2 separate regions of the Homo sapiens genome follow, and region 1 is linked to region 2. The links come from fine-mapping of genetic effects on gene expression. A gene starts in region 2. The other region holds a variant in brackets. All regions are shown on one strand. Distances are from middle to middle.

Region 1 (5,369 bases), 27 kb before region 2:
CCAGACCCCAACCATTCCCAGCCTGCCCAGAGCTCACTTACATTCATGATAACAACAATGGTGTGTGTCTAAGGATAACCTTGTTGGGACTCTAGTTGGTCATGCCCGTCCCCTCCCACTCTGAAGGGCTGAAATTTAACCGAAAGGTAATTTGTTCCATCTGGACTTCAGGTGCCAGGTTTGAGGCTACATCCGATCTGGAAAGTTATTTTCAGTGTGTGTAGATTCTATGATTAGTCCTCAAGTTATTTCTTTAGGGCCAGAGATGAGTTTCACCGAAGCTATATCACATTTCTGGCACCCCATGGTAGGACTTAGAGAAAGCCCCCAAGGACGATCTCCATGAGGCGGAGCCGGCCCTAGGGAGCTAATAGACTATAGAAATAACTCCAGAGCCAGGGAAGCCTCGAACACAAATTTTACAAGGAGCCAATTGAGTGGTTGAGCAGTTGAAGGCAGGCCTATCTTGTTTTTGCTTGAGGGCAGGTTTCTAACATAATGGAAAGAGAAGACTGTAATGATCACCCCCTATATACCTGATCTTCTCTTAAGGTCCTTCAAGGATGTAATTGATTCTGTCAATATCCTTCATATTTAAGGCCATAAGTTGCTGCTTGGTTCAATTAAGGTAGAATTGCTTCTGGTTAAGATCTCAAACTAGGCATCTGGGACTATCTAAAAGTTTCTCTGGAAACTGGAATGTAAGCAATGCAAGATGTATGGCTTAACCTGTAGATATAACTCATGTCAAGAAAACAGTGGGGTTGGGCATGGTGGCTCATGCCTGTAATCCCAGCACTTTAGGAGGCTGAGGTGGGAGGATCACTTGAGGCCAGGGGTTCGAGGCCAGCCTGGGCAACATATCAAGACCCCCATCTCTACATAAAAAGAAGAAGAAACGAAAAGAAAAGAAAAGAAAAGAAAAGAGTGGAAGAGTGCAGGAGCCGAGAGGGAGAGAAAATGTAGTGGTGAGGGGCAGCTTCTGGAAAGGCCCATACTACAGAGGGAGGAATCCTGAATTCCTCACTATCTCTCTAACATCAGGTAAGCATCTCATGATGCAGTTAGAAAGCACATTTCCTTCTTCAGTTTCCCCTCTGGCTGTGTGACCCAGCCCAGATCTGTTTACACTTGGAGCTACCAGGAGCCTATCCGGCCACCTGGCTTTCCCATCAGCACCTGGGGCTGGTGCCATCCCAGGCCCCTCCCTCTGCACCTGCCTTTTTGCTATCTGCAGAGGGTTTGTAGAAACCTTAGGGGAAGAAAGCTAGGGTGGTTCCCTACCTCAACTTTGAGCCCAATTATACCTCTTTCTCTCCCACTTCCCAGTAGCTGTCACAGAAGAGCCATGGGGAAGTCCCCTCCTGGGGACCAAGGAGGAGGCTCTCCAACCTGTGCCCCTCTAGGTACTGTCCATCACAGAAGTGCTACTGCTTCTCTTGGTCTGCATGCTGGAACTTGGGAGCTGAGTCTGAGTCAAGTCTGATGGCTGAGAATCTGGGGGCTGGTAGAAAATCCAGGCCCATAAGCATGAGTCACAGTCTAGGAGAAAAGGGCGAGTGTGATAATTATTTGTCACCAAGAGCTGGTGAGAGTGGTGTGGTGGAAAGGAGAGCATCTGCCTCTCCAGGGACTTGGGACCCCACCTCTGCATCTCTTGTTCTTTGGCTGGGGGTGCTGGCTGTGGTGGAGTCAAGATCGGAGTACCCCAGGCCTCCAGCATAGAGACGAGATCGCATCGGCCACTTCTGCAAGACACAGATTGGGAAGTGAGAAATGCTGCTATTGCAGCCCTTCGTGGTCCAGGATCCTTGACACCCAAAACCCAGCCTTCTCCAGCATCCCTCCCTGACACCTTCCCCAGCCATCACTGCTCTGATCAGGGTCATCATCATGTACAGCCCCACACATTCTCCTGATCACCCAGAGCCTGGATGAGAGACACAGGAGGAGCCATCTGAGGAGGGAGAGGGCCCCAAGAAGAGCAGCGCTCTGTTGGGAGGGAGGTGGACAGAAGATCAGCTGGCCTGGGCAGAGCTGGCAACAGCCAGAGGCTGAGCAATGGGCAGAGCAGCAGAGCCAGGAAAAACTCCAAGCTGGGTCCTCCAAGGTTTGCCCATCTTTCCAGCAGGAGCATGAGCAGTCCCAGAATACACCAGGTTGATTGCCCTGAGGTCGCCCTCCTGTTCACAACCTCTCCACCTGGGAGCTGAGGGAGCTGCTTCCTGGCCAACTGCCCCACCCTGTGGATGTGCTGGAGTGCTGGACCTAACCGGGCCCTCATTGGTTCATTCTTCAGCATAGCTGTTGATCACCTACTACAAGCAAGGGCCTTGCCTTGGTCACTATTTTACAGCGAAGGAAACTACTATATCATCCCAGGACCCTGCACCACCACTGACATTTCAGAGTTCCCCACTTAGTCTCAAATTTATACATTTTAGCTACATTTGCATTGAAGAAAAAAACCAAGTTTTAAGACATTTCAGAACTATGACATTTAGGGGAAAGAGGTGGTGAAAAGTATCATAAAAATAAAGTTGAGAGGTGAGAGGATCACTTGAGCTTAGAGTTTGAGACAAGCCTGTGGAACAAAGTGAGACCCCGTCTCTACAAAAAAAAAAAGAAAAAAAAAAGCCAGGTGTGGTGGCATAAGGCTGTAGTCCCAGCTACTGGGGAAGCTGAGGTGGGAGGATTCCTTGAGCCCAGGAGTTTGAGGGTACAGTAAGCTATGATTGCGCTACTGCACTCCAGCATGGGCGACAGTGAGACCCTGTCTCAACAATAAGTAAATAAATAAATAGTTGGGTGTGGTGGCTCACACCTGTAATCCCAGCACTTTGGGAGGCCGTAGTGGGTGGATCATCTGAGGTCGGGAGTTTGAGACCAACCTGGCCAAAGTGGTGAAACCCTATCTCTACTAAAAATAGAAAAATTAGCCGGGCATGGTGGTGCACGCCTATAATCCCACCTACTCGGGAGGCTGAGGGAGGAGAATCACTTGAACCGGGAGGTGGAGGTTGCAGTGAGCCAAGATTGC[G/A]CCACTGCACTCCAGCCTGGGCGACAGAGTGAAACTCTGTCTCAAAAAAATAATAGTACATATATAAATAAATAATAAAATAAAAAAGTTGATACCACTGCAATGTTATCCTCAGAGGGCAAAGATGACCCTTCCTTTTTAACACAGTGCACTCTTCAACCAGCTCCTTATGGCGCTGTCCCTGGAGACTGTTTAGTGGCTATGAGCTTAGGGTCTGAAGTCAGACACCCCTGAGTTCAAACCGCTTTCAGCCTCATAACCTCCCTAAGCTTCAGTTTCCTCATCTGTAAAGTAATCCTCATTTGGTTTTTGCATGGATTAAAAGACAAAAATACACTAACGTACTTAACCCAGCTCCTGGCCTATCTTTAGCACTCAACTGTTAGCTGTTATTGCAAAGATGATTAATGTTCATTAGACTTTCCATTTTGTACTCTGGAAGAGAAGTAAGGCTCATGTTAGCTTCTATTTTACGTGTAATAAAACTGAGGTTGAGAAAAGCTAGATTGCAGTCTGGCAAGTGGTGCGCGCCTTCCCTGTACTGCTGCCTGCTAACTCCCCCAGCTTGGTTGCTTCTAGAATGACGGTCCCTCAGACCGTTGTTCTCCTGGAGGACAGACCTCTCTTGCAACAGAAGCCTAGAAAGCACCAAGGCAGGCACAATGGGCTGAAGCTGCATGGGGATCTAGGACTCTCCTTGGTATAATTTCCTTTCCCAGGCCCCAGACTTGGAACCTGCTACATTTTTCCCTGTGACTCTAAGAACCCCAGAGTCTTTCCCTCCTCTTCAAGGAGGTGCATTCCCATGAAGCCATTTCCAGCCACACTCCCATGAGAAACCCAGGGTCAGCGCAGCCCCAAGGGTCAGCCTTGGCTCCTCTCCCTCTGAGACAGCAGGAGAAATTGGCTCCGACGTCAGTTCTGCACAGGGCAGGGGGCCCAAGTCCAATGTCCCCCCTCATTCCAATCCCTTTCTCCAAGGCCCTGGGCATTAAGATCCGCCTCTCAAGTCCCAGGGCTTGTGACTTACCTTGAGAGGGTGCAAGTAGCGGAGTCCACGCAGGAAGGGCGGCCAGGCAGGGCCAGGCAACTCGTGGCCGAGTGTGCGGGTGAGGTGGGCTATGTAGCTGGCGGCGAGCACCAGCACGTCCAACTTGGAGAGCTTGGTGTCGGGCGGCACGGCAGGCAGAGCAGCCTGCAAGGCCAAGAAGGCCTGGCGCAGCGTCCTGACCCGGCTCCGCTCCCGCGCGGCATTCTCAGGACTGGCCTCGCTCTGCACAGAGGGCCCCAGTGAGTGTGTGTGACCTGGACTCCCAACTGCCCTGACTTCTGAGAGCGTTTGAGCACAAGGTCTCCCACCAGAGTAGAAGGGTGTCTAGCAGTAGGCACCAGAGGGCCTCTGCCCACCTACGTCATCTGCAGCCCTGCCGCGTTTCACAGCTGAGGAAGTTGGGGGAAGGCCTGGCCAGGGGTCAGATGGCTGCAGGATGGCAGAGCTTGGCTCAGAACCCAGAGTCCTGTGTTCTCTCTACTACTCCACTCATGCCTCCTCAGAGCCTTTGTCCTGTCCCATGCCCAATCTGAATCCTGCTTATCAGGGTGTGCTGGGGCCAGGGGGAGTTCAGAGCTACACCCTGTTTGGGAGGGCGGACCCTTGACCTAGCCAGGTCCTGAGACGACGAGGCTGCTGTGGGAAAGAGGAAAGACACAGAACCAGGGGTCAAAGCACACAGGCTGAAGTCCCAGTCCTACCACTGGCTGCTGCTCAGTGACCTTGGGAAATTCACATCCCTCTTCCCGGCCTCAGTTTCCTCAAGAGAAGTGAGTTAGTGCAGCTCTCTGAGCTGCACTCTGGTTAAGACCAGCTCTGATCTATCCCAACTACCCAAAGCATGATGCCTTGGAGTCTAAGGGGCCAGTGTCCCCTCTCTTGGGCAGGAATGGTAATACTGAGTGAGGCTGTACCATCAGAGGTGACATCTCCCCACCTTCCAACCCCTTCCTCCCCTGGACCCCTCTGCAGGTGCAGGATTTCCTTACCCTGCCAAGAGCCAGGCCCCCAGCCCTGGTCCCTCGAGGGCCAGGGGTAGCTCTGCTCCATCTCTGGTTGCTCCAGCTTCTTTCTTCCCACGGGTCCTGCCTTGTCCTGCTGAGGCGGCTCCTCTTCCTGTCAGCGCCTGGCAGCAACCGTGCTTTGGCCTGAGTCTGGCTATGCCCCACCCCTGGCATGGCTGGTGGCCCTCTGGCCTTCCTCTGTGACATGCCACCCCACTGGGGCTGCAGCCCACAGAGCAGAAACACAGTGCCTGAGGAGGCCTTGGACTCAAGC
Region 2 (5,370 bases):
AATGTTCTTGCTCACTGCCAAGGGGTTTTTTTGAGACACAGTTTCACTCTGTCGCCCAGGCTAGAGTGCAGTGGCGTGATCTCGGCTCACTGCAAGATCTCTGCCTCCCGGGTTCACACGATTCTCCTGCCTCAGCCTCCCGAGTAGCTGGGACTACATGTGCCCGCCACCACACCTGGCTAATTTTTTTTTTTTTTTTTGTATTTTTAGTAAAGATGGGGTTTCACTGTGTTAGCCAGGATGGTCTCGATCTCCTGACCTCGTGATCCGCCCACCTCGGCCTCCCAAAGTGCTGGGATTACAGGTGTAAGCCACTGCGTCTGGCCTAAGGGGCTTCTTTCTACCGGGGACCTTATCTTCTCTTACTTGTGGGGCCCCTGCTGTTAGATTGTGCTCTAAAGGAAGAACAGCCCTAATGTGAATCGATTTTTTTCTTCCTTCATGCCAGCTAGGGGGAAGGTGACAAGGATGAAATAACAGGGACAGATGAGGTCAGTGGGCACTAAGCCCTGACTTTCAGCTTCTCTGCTGTGTTCTGGACAGACATCAAGTGAATGAGAGAGCCTAGCCACGTGGAAGGCATGTGAAGGAGGAGTATGCCATAGGTTCAAGAATAGAAACTGCATATCCGCAGTGGGCCCTAAGGAACATGAGGACCAGATTTCTATCTCCAGTACAGTTCCTATAGTCTACAGGGGCAAATGGTAGAGATGCCAAGTCGATAGTGCAACTGTTGGGAGATGTGACTTTGGACCCTAGTCCTTAAGCCCTGGAATTACGACAGCTGTCAGTCGTGTGAAGGCACTGGGCTAAGCCCAAACTTATGAGATATTTTATAAGTGAAGAAGTTATGACTGACAGAGATTAAGTGGTTTGTCCAGTTACACAGCAAGCAAGAGGCAAAACAAAATTATTAACTATGACATTACCACCAGTACTTGTAGGTAAGATTTGTTGAGTTCTCATTAAGCTCCAGGCATTCTGCTAAGCACTTCACACAAATTTTGTCTTGTGATTTTCATAACAGTTCCATGAAATAGGTTCTGTGATCCCCCTATGTGAACGGATTTGAATGCTGAATAACTTGTCAAGGGCCAGAAGCTTGCCAGAGCTAGTTAGTGGCAGAGCAGGAGATTCAAACCCAGGTCTGTCTGACTCTAGAGCCTGCGCTGTCTAGTCACTGTCGGGTATTGCCTCCTAATTGCCAAGATTTTGAGTTGCTATCCTTTTTTTTTTTTTTTTTTTGAGACGGAGTTTTGCTCTGACACCCAGGCTGGAGTGCAGTGGTGCCATCTCAGCTCACCGCAACCTCCGCCTCCTGGGTTCAAGCGATTCTCCTGCCTCAGCCTCCTGAGTGGCTGGGATGACAGGCTTGCGTCACCACACCCAACTAATTTTTGTATTTTTAGTAGAGATAGGGGTTTCACCATGTTGGCCAGGCGGGTCTCGAACTCCTGACATCAAGTGATTCGCCCGCCTCAGCCTCCCAAAATGCTGGGATTACAGGCATGAGCCACTGTGCTCGGCTGAGTTACTATCAGTTTATTAATTCCTTGGTCAAACGGCCCAGTAGTGTGGAACAAGACTTATAAATTTGTTCACAGGTTTGATTTATGTGGGTTAATTTGATTTTAACTCAAGAAAATGTTTCTTGACTCCCTCCTGAGAATGAATTAGTATTACAATATGGCACTGGTTGCTATGCTTAAATCAGTATAGATCCATTACAGTGCTGGCCAATCCAAACACCGTATCTAGAGGGCCTCCAGAATGGCACTTTTCCTGCATTTTAACCAGTATTCGTTAGCTTATAAAGGGTTTAGTCTATAAAGCAGCAGGGGCCCAGATTTCTGTGCAGCTAGTTGCAAGTAAAGGAAAGTGTTTCCTTAGGGGCAGTTTTGTTCTGAAGTGACCTTCCAAATCTGATGTATAAAGTGAGGCCTACAGAGTATTGTGAGGCTTGGAGTTTTTAACTGTTTTATTAAGGAAGACTTTTTTTTTTTTTTTTGAGACGGAGTTTCACTCTTGTTGCTCAGGCTGGAGTGCAATGGCACGAGGCTCATTGCAACCTCCGCCTCCCAGGTTCAAGTGATTCTCCTGCCTCAGGCTCCCGAGTAGCTGGGATTATAGGCATGTGCCACCATGCCTGGCTAATTTTTGTATTTTTAGTAGAGATGGGGTTTCTTCATGTTGGTCAGGCTGCTCTCGAACTCCCGACCTCAGGCGATCCTCCCGCCTCTGCCTCCCAAAGTGTTGGGATTACAGGCGTGAGCCACCACACCCGGCCCTAAGGAAGACATTTAGTAAACAATATATGCTAATGTAGAAAGCTCTGAAAATATGGAAAAGTCTAGGTAACACTAAAGTCTCCTATAGACCTTTTTAAAGGACTCGAACCAGTAGGTGTCTTGTTAGACTCAGCTACCTAGAACAGAGTTTAATGAAGATGAAGAGATTTGGCTTTTCCTGGATATGTAAATTATGTATATATCTAAATTTCAGTGAGAAAAGTCTCCAAATTCATCAAAATCAACCTCTTCAAACTTTCTCATCACACTCACTATATGGAGAGCCTGGAACATAAAACGGCTGAATGAGCAAGGACAGTTGGGGTCATCCATCAGTTCTGAGCTAGGCCAGTTCTGACCTCAGCCAGCCCTTAAGGGAAGGGAGGTCCTACTAAGCTATTTGGGGGGTGGGTGGTATTGGGAGTTAGCCATGACCCACAGACCTCTGGTTCCTTCCTTCAGTGCAGCTGAAAGACTCAGCTAAACCACCTAAAAAGGAACGCAAAGTGTGCACATCTCTGATACCTCAGGATGCCTTCCACCCCACCTTTCCCCAAATGCTTGTCCACATTATAGGGAGCAGCACCCTCCGGTACCCAAAAGGCCCAGCTGGCATGGGGATCACATGGGATGCAGAGGCACTAGAGAGGCAGAGCCGACTCTCCATTCGGTGGTAGCAAATTTCACCTGTGGGGAAGCCCAACCATCCCAGTTCCCACCAAGGGCCCAAGCCCGTGTCTGGAAGCTGCCCCCTACACCCAAACCCGCTGGCCAGAGCGGTGGACCCGCACCCACCTGAAGCACACATGCCCAGTAGTAGCCCAAGTAGAGGGCAACGGCAAGAGCCAAGAGCAGAGAGAAGGTGTCTGCCCAGGTGCCATTCTGGGGGCTCAGGAAGGAGCTCAGCATCTTGTGTTGGGGGCTTCCGACCCTCAGGCTCCTGGCTGGCCCCAGTTGGCCGGCTGTAACTCGCGGTCCCACCCGCCGCCCGCCATAGGCGGCCTGTGCAGGTCCGGTCCCCGCTGCAGGCAGTTTGCGCTGCTGGCCCCGCCCACCGCCGGTGCCCCGGGATGGGCGGCGAGAGGCGGCGCTAGTTGGTCGCGGGGCTGGGTGGCTGGTCGCCTAGTGCCTCGCGCGGATCTAACCCGAGTGACCTGCGAATGGCCTCCCGCCCTCCCCTGCCTTCTTCCCCTCCGCGGTTCTTGGCTGTGCAGCCCGAGACAAGCGGCCTCCCCCAGCTGCCATCTTGGTGCGGGGCATCTCCAGCTCCCTTAAACTCTTCCCCGGCGACGCCCCGAGTCCAGCAGCCTGGCCAGAGTCCCTTAGGCGCTCGCAGTCAGTCACGCACAGGACACAGCTACTCCTGCAGTGACATTCTGCTCTGTCACACACTACAGCCATTCACAGTGACCCTCACCAGTCACTGTCCGACTGTGACACCCCACACTGTCACAAAGCTTTCAGCTGCTCAGTGGTGGCATTGCAACACATGCACCTTCCTGCAGTGTCACTCTGCATTGTCTCATACAGTCCCTGCCACACAGTCCTCGTACAGTAGATAATTTGCTCACCACCCGCCCTGTACCAGGCACTTGATACAGACCCCCCATGTTACTGTCCGTGTCTTCATTGAAATATAGGAGGTCGTCTACTAAGAGTAGTGGCTTTCAACCTTGACTGCAGATCGGAATCATCTAGGATTTTTAAAACTACCAGTGCCCAGGCCCTACCCCCGATACAGTTAGTCTGGAGAGGAGCCTAGGTATCAATACACCGTAAAGCTTCTAGGAGGTCCACAAGTCATCAGGGCTTAACATGGTCCACACAAGAGAAGTACCAGCTGCCATGGGAGCACTGCGGAGGTGCCCGGACTTCACGCGAGGGTGTTCTAGCAGAGGGGGCAGCAAAGGCAAAAGCCTGGAGGTGAAGGATGTCTTAAGGGAACAAAGAAAGTTGGTGTGGCTGGAGCATGTGGGTGGTCAAGGACCACATAATTGCTGCAGTTTATCCTAGGGTCAGAGGAAAGCCATCCAGGGGTTTTAAGAAGGGAAGGGTGACATGAGTTATGTTTTAGGAGAATCATTCAGTTGCTTGGAGAATAGATTGGAGGAGGAGGAAAGTAGAAGCAGAGAGGCCACTGGGAGGCTGCTAACAGAACGCCAGGCTCAAAAGATGCCCGGACTGGAGGATACCCAGGAGAGGAGTGAAGATCTTCAAGATCAGTGGCAGAATTGATAGGACCTGGTAGTAGATTGGAGGCAGGGGAAGAAGGAGGAACATGGATGACCTCCAGGTTTCTGACTGCACAGATATAAAGTGTCCATCCCTGGGACAGGGAAACAGAGGAGAGGAAGGTTTGAAGAGGAAGATGATGCATTTAGACACAGACATGTAGAAGTTGGGGTGCTGGTAGGTGTTTTAACTGTGTTTCCTTAGGTTCTGTATTTGTCTATTTGGCATCCATAAATCACAGGGCCAACCTAATGGCCAAGGTTGTTTACATCTCCCCTACAATCCAGAGCTCACACTCTGAGCACTTCCTTTCTCTAACTTTCACATTCCAAGCCAGTATCTCCCCTGCCCTAAATCAACCCAGGACCAGGTAACCAGGACCTGTCCCTGTGCCCCAGAGCACTCTGGAATTATTCAAACTAGCCAGTCCCAAACTGCTTCTCCTGCCTTACTGGGAGAAGTAAACCCCAATAAAGGCCTGTACCTTCCCTTCGCTTCTTTCTGCCTCCTGAGTGACACTGGCACTTCCCCCTGTGACCGTGCCTTTTGTTTCTAGGGGAACTGCAAATAACATTAAGCTTTTCTTTCAATAGCAGTGACCTCTTCATGTCCTCACTCAGCCACCTTTATAAATTAAAACTCAGGCACAAATTAGTAGGATATTCAATGCCTGAAGTGGCCTGGGGCTTAGAGATTGGAGGTGGAGAATTGGCAATCATCAGCATTTAGGTGGTGTATTAGTTGGCAGTTTGCTGTAAGAAAGCACTACAAACTGGGTGTCTTAAACCAGGGGTCCCCAACCCCCTGGGCTGCAAATTGGTACTGGTCCATGACCTGGTAGGAACCAGGT

Which allele goes with the higher level. Alleles are on the strand shown, and positions count from the first base shown. SD is a standard deviation of normalised expression in the study named.
As copies of A replace G in region 1, the expression in thyroid of the gene that starts at base 3,331 in region 2 goes up (small effect, 0.22 SD a copy in GTEx).

What was found. PIP is the estimated chance that this variant, and not a neighbour inherited with it, causes the effect. A credible set is the group of variants that fine-mapping cannot tell apart.
Region 1: its variant is the best candidate, but not a certain one, in a credible set for the expression of ABHD1 in thyroid (GTEx, PIP 0.55).

The regions. Positions count from the first base shown.
Region 1 is chr2:27,149,067-27,154,435 of GRCh38, reverse strand. TCF23 (transcription factor 23) reads right to left here. Exons shown (of 3, transcript NM_175769.3): 1 at 5,081-5,369; 2 at 4,071-4,313; 3 at 1-1,748. The coding sequence starts at 5,302. The coding sequence ends at 1,569. Among named protein-coding and RNA genes, the nearest start is that of TCF23, 2.7 kb to the right of the region's middle. RefSeq lists an enhancer at 1,463-1,522. The variant G/A (reference allele first, on the strand shown) is at 3,041.
Region 2 is chr2:27,121,776-27,127,145 of GRCh38, reverse strand. It overlaps ABHD1 (abhydrolase domain containing 1), which reads right to left and starts at 3,331. Exons shown (of 9, transcript NM_032604.4): 1 at 3,084-3,331. The coding sequence starts at 3,197. RefSeq lists silencers at 3,247-3,386, 3,407-3,486.